Linked DNA regions of Homo sapiens: region 2 is linked to region 1. Evidence: fine-mapped expression QTL. A gene starts in region 1. The other region holds a variant in brackets. All regions are shown on one strand. Distances are between the middles of the regions.

Region 1 (5,359 bases):
CCCAAGTCCAGGGCCAAGGGGTCCCCAGGGCCACCACCCCCTGTGGCTAGGGCCACCCGGAAGGGTCCCGGCCCCAGTGGGCTCCTGCCTGAGTCGTGGAAGCCGGGGATGGGAGGGGACCCAAGGGGCGTGGGTGCGGGGGACATGGCCTCAGCAGGCCCTGAGGGCAGCGTCCCCTGCTATCCCCCGCCTGCCCCAGGGGAGTTCCCTGAGGCCCACAGCCTCCACCTGTCTCTGCTGGGCGTCAACTACCCGCTCAGCCCCGGCCTCTTCTCCTACTTGGGGCCCTCACTGGCCGCTGCAGCCCATGTGCCCTTCCTGGCCTCGGCCAGCCCCCTGCTGCCCCCGGCCACGGCCTTCCCAGCCGTGCAGCCCCCTCAGCGCCCCACCCCGGCCCCCCGCCTGTACTACCCGCTGCTTCTGGAGCACACTCTGGGGCTGCCAGCAGGCAAAGCTGCCCTTGCCAAGGCCCCTGTCTCCCCCAGGAGCCCCTCTGGGACTCCGGCTCCTGGCCTGCTGAAGGTGCCAGTTCCAGGGCTGGGGCCCTGGCCCCGAGTCACCCCCAGGGACCCAGGGCAGGAGGGGGAGCTGGAGCGGGCAGCCCAGAGTGACCCCAGGAGGAGGCTGTCCCTGGGAAGCAGGCTGGAGCTTCCGAAGGCATCCCCCAGCCTGACAAGGTTCTGTTCCCGGAGCAGGTGGGCGTCTTGGGCTCCCGGTTCCTGGGGTGGACGGAGGGGCTGGGCGGCTGGGCATGGCGGTTGGGCGGCTGGGCATGGCGGCTGGGGTCCGTCCTGAGCTCAGTCGCTGGGAAAGTGGGCTCCAGGCCACAGAGGGGAACTGAGACCCGAGAGCCAGCGCGGGGGTCCTCGGGGTCTCCAGGAGAGCCTAGGCTCTAGGCTGGGGCCACAGGGCAGAGGCCGTGAGGGGAGAGGGGCAGGGGCCGGGGGCGCTGTGGGGGCAGTGCGGCCTCCTGACCAGCTTCCACCCCACAGCCTGCCCACCGGCTCCTCTGTGATGCTGTGGCCTGAGGACGGGGATCCAGGCGGCCCTGAGACCCCCGGCCCTGAGGGCCCCCTCCCCCTGCAGCCACGGGGCCCAGTGCCAGGAAGCCCGGAGCATGTGGGCGAGGACCTGACCCGAGCCCTCGGTGACTACGCCAGGGTGGAGCAGCGCCTGGGACAGTTGGGGCCCGCGGGGGGCCTGGCCCCGAGACCCCTGCGGGAGCAGCTGGGCAAGATCCGCCTGGAGCTGCTCACCATTCACCAGGCGCTGGAGCAGGCCGTGAGGCCGCCAGACGCACCCCTCGACCTCTCTGTGAAACGTGCGCCCGCCAAGGGGCCCCAGGCTCTTGGAGAGGCGTGGGGGCGGCCCGAGCTGGGTCCCGTGTTGACCGGGGGCACCCCCGAGCCACCCGGCATGCTGGGCCCTGCAGCGCCCCAACCCTTCTCTGGCCACACCACCAAGTGTGAGGCCGACTCCAGCGTCCCACCCCCAGGGCTCCCCCTCGCAGCCCCAGATGACCCTGTCATTCCTGGCAGTGGCTGGGGCACCTGTGTTGCGACGAGGAGTTCCCAGACCCCTGAGGCTGTCTGTGGCCTGCAGAGCCCCCAGGGCGCCGAGGTCTGACCTGCAGCGCCTGAGGTCTGACTGTCTCTGCCTGCAGCATGCCGGCCCCTCTCCTGCAGCCCCTGCCCCTCACCTGCCTGGGACCTGCCCCGCCTCCGCATGCATGTGGATAGACCCCCACGGGCCGTGGCCAACGCTTGTCCCTGGGGCCACACAGGGACACTGGAGGTCACAGTTATTTATTGATCACAATTGTGGACATTAAAACAGAAACTGTTCACACACGCCGTCTGTGCCTCCTTCCTTTGGGGCCCTAGTGTAGCCACCTGGACACCCCCCTAAGGAAGTGTCCTGGCCTGGGAGGCCTGGGTGGGCAGCAGTCCTGCTGGGCCTCTGTCTTCAGACTCGGCCCTCTCCTGTGGGCTGGGCCCTCCCCGCGGGGCTGGGGTCTGGGGGTGGGGCGGGACATCGGCGACGGGAGCTGAGCCAGGAGAGCCGTGTGGACTGGGCTGCTCGGCCTGTGTCTTGGTGTGTCGGGGGTGGAGAGGCGTGTGGACTGGGCTGCTCGGCCTGTGTCTTGGTGTGTCGGGGGTGGGCACGGACCCCTGAACATCCTCTAGCCTCTGAATCCAGCAAGGCCGCGCTCATATCAGCTCTCCTGCGGTTAAACGGTGGCCCCGGGGCTCTGTGGCTGGAGGCTGCTCACCCAGCGTGGGCTCTGCTGGCCCCTGCCAGCCCCTGCAGCCGTGATAGGTATCAGCCTTCACAGCTCACTGCCTCCCTCCCAGCAGGGCCTGGCTTGGCCCTCCCACGGGCAGGGGATGGGCAGACAGGGAGGGGCACCCGGGACCCCCACAGCAAATCACTTCTCTCCTGGGAGAGCTGGCCACACCCTCCACGCCCACCCTGGAATGGGCTCTGGAGCCCACATCGCCCCCCCAGGAGGAGAAGCAGTTCCTGCCTGCGTCCAGCCGGGCTGGGGCCAGTCCAAGCAGGCTGGCAGCGGCCCCATTAACTACCAGGGAGATAGCATCAGCCCCGACCCTGCCTCGGGGCAGCTAGAGCTGGGGTGCTGCCTGGCCAGGCGCGGAGTGCTGTGGGGACAGGTCCCAGCCGGGCCCCTCTACCCAGAGGCTTCCTGGAGGGGCTGCAGGGGGCTCTGGGCAGCCAGGAACTGTTCCCAAGTCCCGAGTCTGAGGGAGACTCCCTGTCCTCAGCCCCCGCCCCCCATATGTCCACTGCACCCCATATGTCCACTGCACCTCAGTTTCTCACCCCCACTGAGCAGACAGGTGAGCATGGCCTTGCTGGGGGCAACAGCACCCGTCTCCCAGGTGTGGAGACACGACCTCCTTCGCTGTCACCCGTGGGGAGCAGGACAGGCCTCATGGAGGGTGCCTCAGCCAGCAGGTCACCCGCCTGTGGTCCAGACCCAAGGACCCTGCTTGGGGGTGGCAGCCTGGGGCTGCCTTGCCACTTGGAGTAATGAACTTGCTGGTTGTGGGGGGACCATGGGGGACCCCTGGAGGGGGGTGGGCTGCATGGCATCTGGCCGTGTAGGGGACGTGGGAATAGTGTCCGGGCAGAGGGCGCAGCCTGCAACAAGGCGCGGAGGCAGGAACACCACAGCATGGGGAGTCCTCAGGGGACCTGGTTTTTCTTTCATAGAAGCTTCAGGGGCCAAGGCCGGAGACTGCACTCTCCCTCCTCCACCCGGCCCAGCTGCGTCCCTGCCAGTGGCTCCTCCCACTTCCTCCAGTTCTAGTTTCCAACAACAGAGGCTGCAGCCACCCAGCCCCGAAGCAGGGCCCAGCGAGACAGGGCCCAGGTAAGAGACCCCTCCCCCCGGCCTCTCTCGGTGGGGCAGGTGGAGGCCCTCGGAATAGGCTGCCTCGCCCCTAAGGGGTCAGAAGTCTCCCTGACCTAGGGGCTCGGGTAGAAGGGCTGTGTGTGGGTGACCGCCCCCCCGCCGTAGAAAGGGGTTCCACAGGCAGATGGATTTGAGAAATGTTGCTTATCTGTCTGAGGCCCATGAGCTCATCTGGGGCTCAGGGGAAAACCCACAGCGAGCTCCACGGGTCATGTGTCTCCCAGACTCAAGTCCCAGGCACCTAGACACTAGGGTGGCCGCTGGGCTTGGTGGCCAGGTAGACCCTCAGGACCAGGAGGACCCGGCCTCATAGGAAGAAACTGGAGGAGTGACTTTGCCATTCCCACACACAGTGGGGCCTTATTCTCTCTCTTGCAGCCCCAAGCGTGACCCAGCTGCAGAGAAGCTGAGACGGTGATTCGGACTGACTGGACTCTGGCCTCCAGGTGTCTGCACCTCACACTGGACCCACCTGGAGACTCCACGGGCTCCCGGCAGCTCCGGCTGCTTGGGTGGATCCGGGTGCCCGCAGGGGCTGTGGGAGGGCCCCGGGGCCTGCACTGCTCCCCCGATGGCCTGCTCTTCCTCACGGCCGGGGCTGCACCCTGTGTCCACGTGCTAGATCTGGAGGGACGCCCCATCTGCCTCCTGCCCTGCCGCACTCCGGGGAGCGGGGCCTTCGTTCCAGAGGACGTGGCTGTGACAGCGTCAGGGCTTGTGGTGGTCAGCGATCCCATCCATGGGGCTGTCCATGCACTCCAGCACACAGCCCGGGACCCCGGGGGCCACTGGGTGACAGTGGGCACCTTCCTGTCTCCCCGAGGGCTGGCTGTGGATGCCCTCAACCGCCTCCTGGTGACGGACTACTTGCCTGGGGCTGTGCACAGCTTCTCGTTGGGTCCTGCTTGGGAGCCCCTGGCCCCAGCCTCCATGCTGGGTCTGGAGGGCCCCTGCTGGGTGGGCCCAGGGCCTGATGGGGGCCTTGCTGTGAGTGAGGAGTTTGGGGATGTGAGGCTGTTTGGCAGTGCCCGCCAACCCCTGGGCTCCCTGGGGGGCTGGACGGGGCACACTTTCGGCTGCCCAGCGGGCATCTGCTCCAACTCAGAGGGCAATGTTATTGTGGCAGACGAGCAGAGGCGCCAGGTGACCCTGTTTCCCCGGGCTGGGCCACCCATCTGCCTGGTGTCAGAGGGGCTTGGGCAGCCCTTGGGAGTGGCCTGTGCACCCCAGGGCCAGCTCCTGGTGGCTGATGCCAAGGACAACTCCATCAAGGTGTACCAGGGCCTCAAGGAGCTGGCCTGACCTGAGGCTGGGTTGGAGCAGCCCTCCTGTGCCTGAGGCCAGCTCCCAGGCCCTTGGATCACCGCGGGAGGAACCCTCAGGATGGGTGGAGCCTCCAGGCTATGGGCATTGCCTGCCTGATGCCAGCACCACCTGGGCTGGGCCCTGGGCTTGGCTCGAGTTCTCCTGCTGGTGAGGCTCCGGATCTCAGGAGCAGCCCTGAGTCTGCTTCCCAGGCTGCCCCTGCCAGGCCTGCAGCCTCCCCAGCCAGGGCTGCTCTCTGCTGTCCCCATTCAGTGCCCTGGCCCCTGCATTCATGCCCCCCACACCCCCTCAGGCCCTGTGCCTGGACTTTGGGGCTGGCAGCTGAAGCCTTGAGATCCTGGGCCAGCTGCCGGCACACAGCTAGGCAGACTCTCCCACCAGGTGCCCCTGCCCAGGCCTCCTAATCGGGGGCAGACAGGCAGGGAGGGTGTGGCTGGGCTGGGCTGGGCGGGGCGGCCTGGGGCAGGGGTGTGGCCCCTAAATGTCCCCAACCTCAGAGGGACCTAGAGTCCTGAGCCTCCAGTAGCTTCTCTGGGCCTGGCAGAGGTAAGGGGGAGGCAACCCTGGAGTGTCTGGAGGCCCATGGCTGGCTGAACC
Region 2 (5,359 bases), 330 kb before region 1:
TGACCAACATGGAGAAACCCCATCTCTACTAAAAATACAAAATTAGCCAGGCGTGATGACGCATGCCTGTAATCCCAGCTACTCGAGAGGCTGAGGGAGGAGAATTGCTTGAACCTGGGAGGCAGAGGTTGCGGTGAGCCGAGAATGCATCATTGCACTCCAGCCTGGGCAACAAAAGCAAAACTCCCTCTCCCCCCGGCCAAAAAAAAGGCCGATCACAGTGGCTCACGCCTGTAATCCCAACACTTTGGGAGGCCGAGGTGGGTGGATCACAAGGTCAGGAGTTCAAGACCAGCCTGGCCAACATGGTGAAATCCTGTCTCTACTAAAAATACAAAAAAACTAGCCTGGTGTGGTGGCACACGCCTGTAGTTCCAGCTACTCAGGAGGCTGAGGCAGGAGAATCACTTGAACCCAGGAAGCGGAGGTTGCAGTGAGCCAAGATTGTGCCGCGGCACTCCAGCCTGGGCGATAAAGGGAGACTCCATCTCAAAAAAAAAACAGGCCGGGAGTGGTCTATTTTGACACTCCACCTCAAAAAAATTAATTAATTAAAAAATAAAATTTAAATTTTAAAAAATCATTTCACAAATGATAATTTAATATGATTGCTGCCCTGGAAGGGGGAAAAAAGACTTACTCTAAGAATACAACAAAGACTGTTCATGGGCTAGAAGCATCAAAAGTCCAGACACGGTTAGACAAGTTTTGTTTTCATTTATTTTGAGACAGAGTCTCACTCTGTCGCCCAGGCTGGAGTGCAGTGGCGCGATCTCAGCTCACTGCAAGCTCCGCCTCCGAGGTTCACACCATTCTCCTGCCTCAGCCTCCCAAGTAGCTGGGACTATAGGCGCCCGTCACCACGCCTGGCTAATTTTCTTGTATTTTTAATAGAGACGGGGTTTCACAGTGTTAGCCAGGATGGTCTAGATTTCCTGACCTTGAGATCCACCCACCTCGGCCTCCCAAAGTGCTGGGATTATAGGCATGAGCCACTGTGCCCGGCTGACAAGTTTTAAATAATGTTTTAAGGCATGACTTTGCTTCCAATTGGCCATTTGAACAAAGCAATTAAATCATCTGAATTACGCACCTACCAAACTGCCACAGTTACTAGAAATCAGACAACTGCCAGGCACAGTGGCCCATGCTTGAAATCCCAGCACTTTGGGAGGCCAAAGCAGGAGATCACTTGAGTCCAGGAGTTCAAGACCAGCCTGGTTAATATGGCAAAACCCCATGTCTACAAGAAAGGAAAAAAATTAGCTGGGCATGGTGGCTTACAGCTGTAGTCCTAGCTACTCCGGAGGCTGAGGTGAGAAGATCACTTGTGCCTGGGAAGCAGAGGTTGCAGTAAGCTGTGATCCCGCCACTGCACTTGAGCCTGAGGGACAGAGGGAGACCCCATCCTTTTTTTTTTTTTTTTGAGACGGAGTTTCACTCTAGTTGCCCAGGCTGGAGTGCAATGGCAAGATCTCAGTTCACCGCAAACTCTTGCCTCCCAGGTTGAAGCAACTCTCCTGCCTCAGCCTCCCGAGTAGCTATGATTACAAGCACGCGCCACCAAGTCCAGCTAATTTTGGATTTTTAGTAGAGACTGGGTTTATACATGTTGGTCAGGCTGGTCTTGAACTCCCGACCTCAGGTGATCCACCTGCCTCGGCCTCCCAAAGTGCTGGGATTACAGGCATGAGCCCCTAGCCTTTTTTTTTTTTTTTTTTTTTTTTTTTTTTGAGACACGGTCTGGCTCTGTCGCCCAGGCTGGAGTGCAGTGGCGCAGTCTAAGCTCACTGCAACCTCCGCCTCCTGGGTTCACGCCATTCTCCTGCCTCAGCCTCCTGAGTAGCTGGGACTACAGGCGCCCGCCACCACGCCTGGCTAATTTTTTGTATTTTTAGTAGAGACGGGGTTTCACAGTGTTAGCCAGGATGGTCTCGATCTCCTGACCTTGTAATCCGCCCGCCTCGGCCTCCCAAAGTGCTGGAATTACAGGCGTGAGCCACCGCCCCCGGCCCTGGCACCGTATTTCAAGGCCGAAAATTCGCATCCTCAGTGCCAGCAATTCTCCTCGTGGTCAAAGAGGAGAAACACTGGGGAGAGCACCCGGAAGCGGGGGCGAGGACGCAGATCGGGGGTCGACGTCAAGAAAGAAGGCGGGAAGAGGACAAGGTCGGGAGAGGAGGAGGAGGGGAGCGAGGACGCAGAGAAGGAGGGGAAAGAGGACGGAGAGGAGCGAGGACGGAGGGGGGACGGGAACGAAGAGGGGCGAGGACGTTCAGCATCCATTGCGACAGCGACAAACAGGACACCGCCAGGTTCCCGGCGGAGGCAGCGCCCAAGATCCCCGTTGCCGAGCAACCGAAGCATGGCGGTGGGGCGGGGTCGGAGCCTGCGCATTTCCGCCCCCGCCCGCCCGGCTGGTCGGAAGTGACGCCAGGGGGCGGGGCCAGCGGCGCGGTCGGGTGAGAGGCCGCGGCGGCAGGTGAGTGAGCGCGGCCTCGTACTCGCGCGTGCACGCCGCAGGGGCGCCGCAGGCCGCCCCTTCGCTCTGGGACCCCGGCCCCCAGGTTCCCCAGTCCCTCGGCCCCTGGAGGACCCCGCCGTGCTGCCCCCTAGCTCCTCCGCCTTCCCGAGTCGGGTGCGGGCCGGGAGGCTGCGGCGGGGCCCCAAGTCCCTCAGCGGGTCGGCAGCAGCGCCTCTGGAGGCTGATTCTTTCGGGTTTCCCCCATTGCCGCAGCCTGG[G/A]TTTCAGTGGCATTCAGAACAAGCCCACATGTTCCTCAAAGCGGGGTTTTACCTCCCGGTAGGGAGCTCCCCGCCGTGGCGCAGCGTAGGTGAGCCGGCCGTGGTCGCTTTCGCTCTTGGTGCCGCCTGGGTTGCCTGAGAGTGTTTTTTTATGGTGGAAGAATGTGGATGAGAAGCCTCACGGGGGTCGGAGAGGCGTGTCCTCTCTCGGGACGCTGTCTGCAAGCTTGTCCGTCCGGCACCCCGGGAAAGCTCCCCGAGCGCAGCCGAGGTTGCTCGTCTGTGGGAGGGACTCAGGCATAGAACACAAAACAGAGGCTAGATGGGAGGAAAACACTGGGATTAGCGTTCCTGGCTCTCCCCTACGTTCGTTGGCCGAGAGTTGTCAAGGAGAGAGTTTGCCCTTGGACAGACTGATAGGATATCAGGGTAGGCAATTTCACTTACTCTCTGGTTCTAAACCTTGTGATTCCAGCTGAGGAGGCTGTGACGCGCTCCCTTCCATGTACTGGCTGCCGGTGTCTTTACGGCGCCAGCATCAGATTACACTACTTCCCTTATTGCAATTTCAGTCTGCATCCAATTAGAGCAGAATAACTCAACAAATACTCTCCGAGTGTCTGCTGGGAACCAGGGATGGTTGTAGGAGCTAAGGATATAGTACTCCACGAAAGAACTTCCTGTCCTCAAGGAGCTTCTATTCTACTGGAGGGTACAGATAGTAAATTAGATAAATAAAAAATGGAGCTTGCTGGGCCGGCGCGGTGGCTCACGCCTGTCATCCCAGCACTTTGGGAGGCCGAGGCAGGCGGATCACCTGAGGTCAGGAGTTCGAGACCAGCATGGCCAACATGGTGAAATCCCGTCTCTACTAAAAATAAAAAAATTAGCTGCGTATGGTGGCAGGTGCCGGTAATCCCAGTTACTCGGGTTCAAGCGATTCTCCCCACTCAGCCTCCCAAGTAGCTGTGATTACAGGTGCCCGCCACCACACCCAGCTAATTTTTTTTATTTTTTATTTTTAGTAGGGGTTTCACCATGTTGGCCAGGCCAGTCTCAAACTCCTGACCTCAGGTGATCCACTCGCCTCGGCCTCCCAAAGTGCTGGGATTACAGGTGTGAGCCACCGCAACTGGCCCTCTTTTTTTCCTTTTGCTCCACCCTCCTGAGTATCTGGGACTACAGGCATGTGCCACCATATTTATTTTTCTTAAAAATTTTTTTTGGGTGGGCGCAGTGGCTCATGCCTGTAATCCCAGCACTTTGGGAGTTTGGGGTAGGCGGATCACTAGGTCAAGAGATCGAGACCATCCTGTCCAACATGGTGAAATCCCGTCTCTACTAAAAATATAAAAATTAGCTGGGTGTGGTGGCGCACACCTGTAGTCCCAGCTACTTGGGAGGCTGGGGCAGGAGAATAGCTTGAACCCGAGAGGCAGAGGTTGCAGTGAGCCGAGATTGCACCACTACGCTCTGGAGACATAGCGAGACTGTCTCAAAATAAATAGGCCGGGCGCGGTGGCTCACGCCTGTAATCCCAGCACTTTGGGAGGGCGAGGCGGGCGGATCACGAGGTCAGGAGATCGAGACCATCGTGGCTAACACGGTGAAACCCCGTCTCTACTAAAAATACAAAAAATTAGCCGGGCGAGGTGGCGGGCGCCTGTAGTCCCAGCTACGCGGGAGGCTGAGGCAGGAGAATGGCGGAAACCCCGGGGGGCGGAGCCTGCAGTGAGCCGAGATCGCGCCACTGCACTCCAGCCTGGGCCACAGCGAGACTGTCTCAAAAAAATAAAATAAAATAAATAAATAAATTATTTTGTAGGGATGGGGTCTCTCTTTCTCAGTCTGGTCCTGAACTCCTGTGCCCAAGCAACCCTCCTTTGTTGGCCTCCTGAAGTGCTGGAATTATAAGTGTGAGCCACTGCGCCCAGCCTGTTTATTTATTTATGTATTTTTTTAAAAAAATATGTAGATGGGTTCTCACTGTGTTGCCCAGGCAGGTCTCAAACTCCTGGCTTCAAGCAGTCCTCCTGCCTTGGCCTCGCAAAGTGTTAGGATTACAGGTGTGAGCCACCATGCCCACCCCTTCTTTTTCTTTTCAGGCTCCTTGCTTCCATTCTGCTGACTTCTAATGGTTGTCTGCTGCTTGTAACAACACAAAGTTTAATGGATTAAAGTGACGAATATTTATTATCCAACAGTTTCTGTGGGTCAGGAATTGATCAGTGGCTTATCTGGGTGATTATGACTTCGGGTCTCATGGAGTTGCAGCCAAGATGTTGGCTGGGGCTGCAGGTGTCTAAAAGCTGGATGGAGTCTTTTCTGTTTTTTCTAGAGGTCGAAAATTTAAAAAGAACAAATAAAATAAAAGCTGGACCAGGGCTGGAGGATCTGATTCCAAGATGGCTCACTCACAAGGCTAGTGACTGGAAGCCTCAGTTCCCTCTTGGCTGGTGGCAGGAGCCCTCAGTTCCTTGCATCATGGAACTTTCCTTAGGGCCCATGTCCTCACATGGTAATTATCTTCCCTTAGAGCAAGTGATCTCGGAGTGAAAGTGGAAGGTTTCCACCACAAAACCTGTTAATGAAATTCTTTTTTTTTTTTTTTTGAGAC

What was found.
Region 2: its variant is fine-mapped to the expression of NHLRC4 in monocytes (TOPMed, PIP 0.95).

Annotation. Positions count from the first base shown.
Region 1 is chr16:563,682-569,040 of GRCh38, forward strand. NHLRC4 (NHL repeat containing 4) reads left to right here and starts at 3,324. Exons shown (of 2, transcript NM_001301159.2): 1 at 3,324-3,394; 2 at 3,790-5,359. The coding sequence starts at 4,367. The coding sequence ends at 4,738. It overlaps PRR35 (proline rich 35), which reads left to right. Exons shown (of 3, transcript NM_145270.3): 2 at 1-695; 3 at 993-1,848. The coding sequence ends at 1,626. RefSeq lists enhancers at 963-1,859, 2,755-3,650, 3,599-3,648.
Region 2 is chr16:232,376-237,734 of GRCh38, forward strand. FAM234A (family with sequence similarity 234 member A) reads left to right here and starts at 2,446. Exons shown (of 13, transcript NM_032039.4): 1 at 2,446-2,482. RefSeq lists an enhancer at 1,863-2,406 and silencers at 2,139-2,188, 2,269-2,728. The variant G/A (reference allele first, on the strand shown) is at 2,743.